2 separate regions of the Homo sapiens genome follow, and region 2 is linked to region 1. The links come from fine-mapping of genetic effects on gene expression. A gene starts in region 1. The other region holds a variant in brackets. All regions are shown on one strand. Distances are between the middles of the regions.

Evidence for each region. PIP is the estimated chance that this variant, and not a neighbour inherited with it, causes the effect.
Region 2: its variant is fine-mapped to the expression of TENM2-AS1 in non-classical monocytes (Schmiedel 2018, PIP 0.95).

What each region holds. Positions count from the first base shown.
Region 1 is chr5:168,228,965-168,234,340 of GRCh38, forward strand. TENM2-AS1 (TENM2 antisense RNA 1) reads right to left here and starts at 3,408. Exons shown (of 3, transcript NR_109894.1): 1 at 3,340-3,408; 2 at 1,922-2,092; 3 at 619-896. The region is part of intron 27 of TENM2 (teneurin transmembrane protein 2); the gene reads left to right.
Region 2 is chr5:168,737,627-168,743,002 of GRCh38, forward strand. All of the region lies in intron 20 of SLIT3 (slit guidance ligand 3), which reads right to left. Among named protein-coding and RNA genes, the nearest start is that of MIR218-2, 28 kb to the right of the region's middle. The variant C/G (reference allele first, on the strand shown) is at 3,017.

The DNA of each region.
Region 1 (5,376 bases):
AATATACATATACGTATACATAATATACATATATAATACATTATATGTATACATAATAATATACATTACATTATATATAATTACATATATAATTAATGTATAATTATATGTATAATTATAATATTATAATGTAAACCCTATGTTAAATGCTTTGCTTGTATTATTTTAACTTTTTCAATAGCCCCACGAGGATAATTATTACTATCTTCATTTTTCAGATGAGAAAACAGACTCAGGGAAGCTAAATTACCTGTCCAAGGACACAATAGCTAGAAAGGGCAATGCCAGGACTCGATCCCACGTCTCTCTTTCTGTCTGACTCACTTGCCAATATGTCACATGCCTTCCTGCTTATCCGTGGTCATCCAGAGCTTCTCAGCAGAAGTGGATTCTGCTCCAGTCACTTATCTGTCACCAAGAGGGAACAGTTCCTACCATCATGCTAACCCCTTCCCTGGGGAGGGGGAATGTAATGGCATACAAAGCAAAGGCCATAACTTCCTGCACCTTACCTTCAGGTTGCGGGGAGATGGGAGAGAGGGGTAGATCATAAGTAAAAACTAATAAATAAAAATAAATAAATAACTGCAGAACAAGACAAGCACTAGGAAGTCAGTAAACAATGGAACAAAGAAAGAGTTTATCAAATGCTTTGGAATCCCTGAGAGTAGAAGGCTCAGCATCGCCAAAGCTTGGGTTGTAACTTTTTTGCTGTGTAACTGGATTGAAATCCAGCCAGCCCAGGTGACCTCCCTGCAGAGCCAGGCCCCTCCATATTAAGATTCCGCCTTTGTCTGGCTGAAGTTTAAGTCAAGTCTCCACATTAGGTTAGCAGCAGTCTCCCAGGTTTTTCTTCCTCTGCTGGTATCTGCAAAGTTGCAAACTGCAGTAGCCTCCTAAAGACAAAAATGGAATGAGATTAGTAGTTAAATCCTTAATGACTGGATTTCAGGGCTGTGTAATTGATTTTTGATATGCTGCACTGTAGAAGTTGATTATAAGTAGTAATCGTGCCTTTTCTCTGATAAATCAGTTATGCATTTTGACTAAGTTTTCCAAATAAAGATAAATGTGGCCCTAAAATAAAGTGGCTATAATCCCAACTCCAAATATTAAAACTCTTTCTTTAATAATGGTACTTGTGGTAATTAGCCCAAGTTAGGCACACAAGTCTTATAACTGAATTTCTGCCAGGGTTAGATTTGCTGGCATCGTGTTTATGCAAATCAAAACACAGTTTTATCTATCAACACCTCAACATTTAATTGTCTGGTGTTAGTTCCTGTAACAACAATCACATATCCATTTAGCTCTCTTAAATGAAAATCACTATGAGATTATAACAGGTTGAGTGGACTGAAAATGTAATTTGAAAATGAGGGAGAAAGCCTGGAATTTATTTGCATCTCATTTATTTTAATTCAGTTCGTAAACTGTTTAGTGAATGAAATGAAAGCAACTTCTGGAAATGGCAGGAGAGCAGTTGGAAGAAGGTATAAGGGAAATGTTGGGTGTGATGTGGATTGAGGGAACTGGGGAGTGGCCATTTCGTCAGATGTTTCGTGAGCCCATGGCAGGGAGTTTGCAGCCCCTAAGCCGAAGGTACCCATTGGCCCCATAAGGCTAGCAGGCTGTCTCACCATTGGCAAGATGGGCTCTTCTCTCCCTATCTATCTATCTTAGTCTTGCTGTGTCTTTTCATCCCTGCTCCACTGTCACATGAGGGCATGAAAGTTCATTTATTCAAAAGATGTTTATTAGGTGCCAACACTACAGTCAGTACCACGGAACAAGGAGACTCTAGAGAGATAAAGAAAACTGGGTGGCACCGACTAGCTAACGGTCTCATGGAGAAGACAATATTAGTAGTGTGATGTAAGCTATAATACAGGCCAAAAGCACAAAGAAAGGGATACTTAACTGTATCTGCTGGAAGAGGATAGGCCACGGCCAGGTAACAAATTAACCCTGAAATCTCATGGGCGTAACACATCGCAGTCCAAATGCATCGGGCGGCTCTTCTTAATGAGGACTTGCTCCAGTTGCTCTGTCTTGCGATCCTGCCATCTTAAGCACAGGCTCTGTGCAGTTGCTGCAGCAAGGGAAGAGAGTTTGGGTGATTCACGAGAGCTTAATAAGCAGGCCTGGATACGGCAGGCCTCACTTCCACCCACCCTGGTGAGAACACTATCAGGGAACCTCAACTGAACCACAGGGAAGCCTGGAAAATGTTGTCTTTTCTGAGTGCCTAAGAAGAAGAAGATGAACAAAGACTTGGTAAGCACGTAGCAGAGTGATCAGGTCTCCCGTTTGACAAGAGATCAGGAAGGGCTTCACAGAGGAGCTGGAATCATTTCTGTAGAGTAGTAAGAATCAGCCAGGCAGAGATAGGGAACAGAGGTGACAGGACAAAGAATGTCGCCAGTGGAAAGGCCAAGAGGCCAAAAAGGGAATGGCATTTCAGAAAACTAATTCAGTGTGGCAGTGGATGTGTTAGAGAGTAGGGTAGAAAAAGAAGATGCAGCCAGAGACTGCACATGGAAAAGAACATGGTGCCAGGCTAACATTTATCCTGAGGGCAATGGTGAGCCCTACCTGGACTTCATTAGCAGAGTGATGTGCTGGGATGTGTGGCATTAGAAAGCTCTCTCCAGCCTGGGCACAGTGGCTCATGCTTGTTTTCCCAACACTTTGGGAGGCCAAAGTGGGAGGATCATTTTCGCCTAGGGGTTCAAGACAAGACCAGCCTAGGCAATATAGCAAAACCGCAATATAGCAAAACCCTGTCTCTACAACAACAAACAACAACAACAACCAAAAAAAAAAAAAAAGTTTAAATAGCCGACCATGGCCTGGCACAGTAGCTCATGCCTATAATCCTAGCACTTTGGGAGGCCAAGGCAGGAGGATCCCTTGAGCCCAGGAGTTGGAGACCAGCCTGGGCAACATAGGGAGACCCTGTCATGGTGGCACATGCCTGTAGTCCCAGCTATTCGGGAGGCCAAGGCAGGAGGACTGCTTGAGCACAGGAGTTTGAGGCTGCAGTGAGTTCTGATCATGCCCTGTACTCCAGCCTGGGCAACAGAGCAAGACCCTGTCTCAAGAAAAGGAAAGAAAAGATCTCTCTGACTTCCTCAGGTATGGAGGAAGACAGATGAGAAGGGGACAAGATAGATGATAGGAGGAGAGGGACAGTAAGGAGGGTGCTGCATTAGTCCAAACAAGAAACTAAATCACTAGCAGCGAGGAAAGAAAGAAGGTAGGGGGAGAGATTTGAGAGATGTCTAGCACACGAGGACGAGGATTGGGCAACTAGCAGGGTTGCTGTGTCATGCTCACCTTTTGACAGGCTCTCCCCATGATCATGTAAACTGGGAAGGCTGGGTGGCCGTCCACGCTTTGTGGGCTCTGTAAAAGAGAGTGGCTGGGAGCTGAAACCCAAGCCAGAGATGTAAGATTCTGGTGGCCCCAGCCCTGCCTCTTGGAATGGAGAAGAAACTAAATGAACTTTGAAATGCAGCCACTTAACCAGCTCCATGTAATCACTGCTCCCCATGTGGAGAGCAGGGATTTGGAGAGAATGTGTGGGTATCATGCATGAAGCAAATAGCCTGAACGTCCCCGGGACTGGCAAGCTCCTGGGAGCCTGGTCAGCTGAGGGGTGTGAGGGCCCAAGGCTCTGAACATTCCTGGAGTTTAGAGAAGACCAACAATCTCAGTGAAGCCATCACAATAGAACAGTGCCCAGTGAAATTCCAACCCACCTAGGTACCCTTTCTTCCCACAATCCTCCAGACGGAGGCATCTCTTAGTGGAGGAAAGTATCAGTGGCTCTTCCTTACAGCCTGGGGAAATGTAAGATGATGGCGGATGGATAGACCGGGACCACATCCTTTCACCAAAAGCTTTGTAATGGAGTGTTAGTCCCTTCATTCCTGCCCAAACTCAGTGCAGGGAAGATTTTCATTATGCCTCCCAAGAACTCCTCAAAGAATCTCCTTTGAAAGAGTCCTCCCCCTCCTTCCCGCATTGTCCTCCATTCCTTTCTTCACTCACTCTGGCCTTGCAAAAACATGAAGCAGGCCGGGCGTGGTGTCTCACGCCTGTAATCCCAGCACTTTGGGAGGCCGAGGCGGGTGGATCACGAGGTCAGGAGATCAAGACCCTCCTGAACAAAATGGTGAAACCCCATCTCTACTAAAAATACAAAAATCAGCTGGGTGTGGTGGCGCATGCCTGTAATCCCAGCTACTCAGGAGGCTGAGGCAGGAGAATCGCTTGAACCAGGGAGTCGGAGGTTGCAGGGAGCCAAGATCGTGCCACTGCACTCCAGTCTGGCAGCAGAGTGAGACTCCCATCTCAAAAAAAAAAGAAGCAGTTACATCATGGCATCTGTGAGCTCCATAAGTGCAGGGACCAGGTCGCCCCTGTATCCCTGGTGACAAGTGCCATGTGGTGGGTACTCAGACAACAGGTGACAAAGAAAGATGTAATAACTGTGCCTTCTATAGGCGCCTTCTTAATGTGTAAATGCTCCCCCACCACAGTGGGTATAAATTCACAAATACATTGCCCCTACATCTGTCTGGAATCCTTCCACTGCAAGAGACAGGAAGTGCATTCAGACTAACTTAGAAGAGTAGGCGCTGTCTTACCTAACAGGGCCACCACAAGGGAGAAGCTGGCCTCAGAGACTCTAAGATGTCATTAAATGGTGTACTAGTCTGTTTTCACGCTGCTGATAAAGACATACCCAAGACTGGGAAGAAAAAGAAGTTTAATTGGACTTACTTACAGTTCCACATGGCTGGGGAGGCCTCAGAATCATGGCGGGAGGCAAAAGGCACTTCTTACTTGACGGCATCAAGAGAAAATGAGGAAGAAGCAAAAGCGGAAACTCCTGATAAACCCATCAGATCTCGTGATACTTATTCACTATCACTAGAATAGCACGGGAAAGATCGGCCCCCAGGATTCAATTACCTCCCCCTGGGTCCCTCCCAACACATGGGAATTCTAGGAGATACAATTCAAATCAAGATTTGGGTGGGGACACAGCCAAACCATATCAGATGGACGTCTCTCTTTCTGTTTCTCACAGCCCCCTTCCATCCCATGGCAGGGTTTCTCTCTCGGCAGTTGACCTAATTTTCTCCTACAGTAGACTAATGTCCTCTTCACATTGCGGGGGTGGGGGGTGGTCAGGCAGACTTAGCCAAAGTTGACTCCAGGCTTACATCATCACAGCTAAGTGAACCCAGAGGAAAAAGGAAGGTATCTCCCCCAGCATTTCTATTTTTCATAAAATATCTCATGGAAGAAAGATTGACCTGGCAGAGGGAGTTCACATTCCTGGGCAAATCACTGGTCAGGGAG
Region 2 (5,376 bases), 510 kb after region 1:
TGCTCATTGTCCTTAGACCAAAAATATATGTCTAAACATCATGGATATTAACCAGGGGTAGATATGGGGGAAAGCTGTTCACCAGCACTGGATTCTGCATTTCTTCTCTAACCGTTATGAAGATGTAGGCTTTGCAGAGTTTGTTTCCAGAACCAGGAAACCTGATGTTTGTAAACATTTCCATAAATGGAAGCAAGCAGATTTTTAGGTTTCAGTTCTAAAATAGTGAGGTAAGCATGAATTTAAAAGGACAGTTGCATGGCAATAATTGTACTTTCTGAAGGCAGTGAGGCCCTACCTTCACAGAGAGTATTCTGGTGACTTTGAGGGCTGAGATGTCCTGTATTTGCTTCTGTCCTGCTTTCCATAAGATTCTGTAAGCTTGCCTTTTAAATTAGGAACTTCGTGCTGACTTAGAGCAGTTATCTCTCTCTATCCATTGCCCACCAATATGTAATGACCAGAGTGGTTCTCAAAGTGTCATCCATAGACCCCGGGGGTCCCTGAGGCTTTTTCAGGGGTCTATGAGGCCAAAACTATATTTACAATAAGGTTAAAATGTTATTTTCCTTTTGCCCTGTGTTGACATTTGCACTGATGGTACAAAATTAGTGGAGGGTAAAACTGCTGGCACCTCAGCATGAATCAGGACATCGCTACCAAATGAAACTGGTGGTCACTGTATTCTTCACCTCTGTGCACTTGCAGGTTTTACCAAAACCAGGAATGCCCTTGATGAAGTACCAAGAATTATTGTTTGTATTAACATTCAACTCTTGAGCACACATTCCTTTAATGTCCCGTATGACAAAATGGGAGATGTACACACACAGCATGTTGGTTGTCTAGAGAAAAGTACCTGTGTAATTGAGTTGCAAGCTGAACTAGCTGGCTTTTACATTTTTTCATGGAACACTGTTTTTACCTAAAAGAAAGACTGGCAAACTCATTATTCAGACATGGCTATTTAGTAGATAATTTCTTGAAAATGAACAAAGTAAGCCCATCACTTTAAAAAAAGCAACTCACAGGCTGGGCACGGTGGCTCATGCCTGTAATCCCAGCACTTTGGGAGGCCGAGGCAGGTGGATCACAAGGTCAGGAGATCGAGACCATCCTGGCTAATACGGTGAAACCCCGTCTCTACTAAAAATACAAAAAATTAGCCGGGCGCGGTGGCGGGCGCCTGTAGTCCCAGCTGCTGGGGAGGTTGAGGCAGGAGAATGGCGTGAACCCAGGAGGCGGGGCTTGCAGTGAGCCGAGATGGCGCCACTGCAGTCTGGCCTGGGTGAAAGAGCAAGACTCCATCTCAAAAAAAAAAAAAAAAAAAAGCAGCTCACAGTATTTGTTGCCAATGATAAATTCGTGCTTCCAAGTAAAAATTAAAATTTTGGAAAACTTTTCACTGCCACATTGAGCTTAACAACTTTCCCTCACTTAAAGACTTTTCTGATGAGATCAGCGGTGATATCAAAGGACATTATTTAAAAAATATATTGTATAATGAAATGTGTTAGCATTTGGAAGATCTGCATAACTCAGTGAACCGATATTTTTCCATTGACCAACACATGATATTACAAGATCGTGCATGGGGAAAGTTCCATTCAAAGCGTAAGACAGATCGGTAGAGTTATGTAACAGAGGACCAAAGGTTCACTGGTACAAGTGCAGTTCCACACTACAACTAGCCTTTAAGAAAATGCCACTTGTTGAGCTTTGGTCTTAATCAAAGAAGAACACCCATAATTACCTGAAAAGACTATTAAAGTATTCCTCGCTTTTTCTTTCTTTTTATTCTTTTTTTTTTTTTTGAGATAGAGTCTCACTCTGTCACCCAGGCTGGAGTGCAACGGCGCAATCTCAGCTCACCACAACCTCTGCCTCCCAGCTTCAAGTGATTCTCCTGCCTCACCCTCCCAGCTTCAAGTGATTCTCCTGCCTCACCCTCCCAAGTAGCTGGGATTACAGGCGCCCACAACCACGTCTGGCAAATTTTGTATTTTTAGTAGGGACGGGGTTTCTCCATTTTGGTCAGGCTGGTCTCGACCTCAGCTGATCCACCCACCTCGGCCTCCCAAAGTGCTGGGATTACAGGCGTGAGCCACCGCACCCGGCTCCTCCCTTTTCAAATACATTTCTGTGTGAAGCCAAATTTCTTATCCTTCATCCAAAAAGCATACCACAACAAAGTGAATGGTGAAGCAGATATGAAAATTGAGCTGTCTTCTAGGAAGCTAGATATTAAAAAGATTTGCAAAAATATAAAACAATGAAACTCTTCTCACCTGCATTTCTTTTGGTTTGTCTTAAAAATGTGCTTTTTATATAAACATGTCATGGGTATATAATTGTTACTTTTAAATGGAATTAATGCATATTTTAACATTTTCTCAGTGTTAGTAATATGATCAATATCAATAGCTATAACCCACATAAACACAGGTTCTTGGAGTCCTGGATGCTTCTGAAAAGCATAAAGGAGTCCTGAGACCTAAACATTTAAGAGCCTCTGGTGGAATGGGCATGAGCACAGGATTTGGGGTCAGACAAAGAGGGCAACTGGTACTGTAGCCCTACTTCAAAGAGCACTTGCAAGACTGAATGTGAGAATGAGGCTCAGTTTGGCTTGACTCACCCAGGGTAGAACTGAAAGGAGACTGTGAGAGAAGGGCCAGTGAGGGTTAATAGAGAGCTGACTGGAGAAAAAAATCACCTCCTGCTCAGATGGCATTGCTGGGGTCTTGCATGCTTGCAACAGCCTCTCACACTCTGCCCTTTAGAGAAATGCTGGGCAACTTTGTTTTTGTTTTTTCTTGGTGAATTAAACTTAATTTTGTTTTGTAAGCTGGCAGCTCTGCCTGAGATAACTAATGAGACCCAAGGGAGCTGAAAAGCTTGCATTGGAAACCCTGGATCTGGACTCAGCCAATGTCTCTGAACCAGAGGCTCCCAGCCATAATTCTCCAGGTCTGCCAGCTTTCACTTTCTTTGACACTCATTCTCCTGCTTACCC[C/G]CAACCCTCCACCCCAGGAAGACGGTTTGGGGAAAGAAGTGAGGGCTGCCTTCCTCGGTGCACTTTGGAAGCCATGCCTGGCCAAGGGAAGTGATACCATTTCCAAATCAGAAAATCAGGTCTCCTCCCAAAGTGCTGAAGTTTACTTTATAATTGCAGCCAATTATCTTTGTTATTTCAGTTTTCGTTCCATGAGCTTTGGGGAAAAGCATTCACGGGCTATCGTCATGGCATTTCTGTCCTTTGACATGTGTCACTTGGCACTCAATTGGCCCAGGAAGGAGAGTATAACTGGGTCATTCTCTGCAGCCCCGTCCCATGGCACAGCCCGGTCCAAGGGAAGGGCAGGAAGCTCACTGCACGTGGGGGCATTTTTGTACACAGAACTTCCAGGGCATGACCCCAGCTCAAACTCACGGTGGACATGAACTTTTTAGCAACTGTCAAGACCTCCCTTCCTTCCCCTGGGCTGGCAGCCCTAGTTTCAGTTTTTCTGAGCATTGGGAAATGCCTGGAGCCACAACACACACTCAAGAATCCATGTGCCTCCAGGCACGGAGGCTCATGCCTGTAATCCCAGCACTTTGGGAGGCCGAGGCGGGCGGATCACGAGGTCAGGAGATTGAGACCATCCTGGCTAACATGGTGAAACCCCGTCTCTACTAAAAAATACAAAAAATTAGCTGGGCATGGTGGCGGGCACCTGTAGTCCCAGCTACTCGGGAGGCTGAGGCAGGAAAATGGTGTGAACCCGGGAGGCAGAGCTTGCAGTAAGCCGAGATCACACCACTGCATTCCAGCACTCCAGCCTGGGCGACAGAGCAAGACTCGGTCTCAAAAAAAAAAAAAAAAAAGAAGACAAGACAGATTCAGAGAGGAATGCCTGCTACGGGTTAGTTGCTGTGCTTAACTCTGGAGGGGGAAAGAAAACAAACAGTGAATGAGACACAATTGCTGCTCTCAGGGAGCTCTTGGTCTAGAAGGGGAAATAAGTAAATAAGCAACTACAACACAAGGCGATACCTGAGAGAAGAGCCATGGGGATACAAGTGAGAGGCACCTAACCCAGTCTTAGCCACCCAAAAGGCTTTCTGAAAGGAAGGTTAATAATCAGCACTGACATTCATCAAACCGTGACTATGTGCTGCACAAAGGGCTAAGTGCTTTAGTTATGTTATCTTAGTCACCCTCTGCCTTGTGAAGGATATACCGCTGTTATCCCCATTTCACAGATCAGTAAATAGAGGTTGAATGAGATTAAGTAACTTGCCCAAAGTGATGCAATCAGTAGGTAGTAAAGTTGGAATTTAAACCCAAGACTATTTGTTTTCAGAATCACTCCTCTTAACTTGTGCTTCCAGGACTGAGACTGAGAAACCAGAGGGGGTTACCTAAGTAGGGATGGGAGTGAAGAACATTCTAGGCCGGGAGAATATAAATGCCCTGGACAGAGGCCCTGAAGTCAGGAAAGGCATATGCACTGGGGGAATCACAAGAAGCTACAGGTGTGGCTGCAATGTGGCTTCTGGGGGCAGGAGTGGGAAGAGATGCTGCTGAGTAGCCCCAAGGCACAGGCAGAACCAAGGCTGGGACTCACCTCTGGGCTCCTAGCCCAGTGCTCTTTCTACCACATTCTACCTGCTTCCCCATCGCAGGCTAGCATGTTTTTATCTGCACCCATTTCAGACTGGAGGGAGCTGGCCTATGTAAAAATGAGGCATTTTCTTCCTCACCCAGAGAGGCCTCTGATGGGAATTGAGGAGTGGGGTGAAATGGAAGATGCAGAGAGAAAGGGGACAGGTGCTGACCGCTCTGCCAAGATGCAATGTCTCCTCTGCAGTCCTGGAATCAGGTCACAGGACTCACCACGGCCTTTGAGACATACCAGCTGCACACTTTCAGGCTTCTACTCTATGTGGGTAACTCCCAGGGGACTGGCCCCAAAATCCACTCAAAAACATAGAGGAGGAGTCATGACAGTGATAACAATCATCATAGCTAATGTGACTGAGTGCTTCTGAACCACTGGCATCTGGTCTTTTAATGCTTACAGCTAGCTTATGAAGTGGTATATTAGCTTTCCTCCTGGGCAAAGAGGAAGAAAATCAGTTCAAACCACCTTAAGCATAAAGAGAATTTATCAACTCAGATAACTGAAGAAGGCACTGGAAGATACCGGGCTCTAGGGCTGGATGCAGGTACTGCAATGATACTGTCAGAATGTGTCTGTTATCCCAGCACTTTGGGAGGCTGAGGTGGGCAGATCCCAAGGTCAAGAGATCGAGACTATCCTGGCCAACAGGGTGAAACACCATCTCTACTAAAAAAAAAATACAAAAATTAGCTGAGCGTGGTGGCAT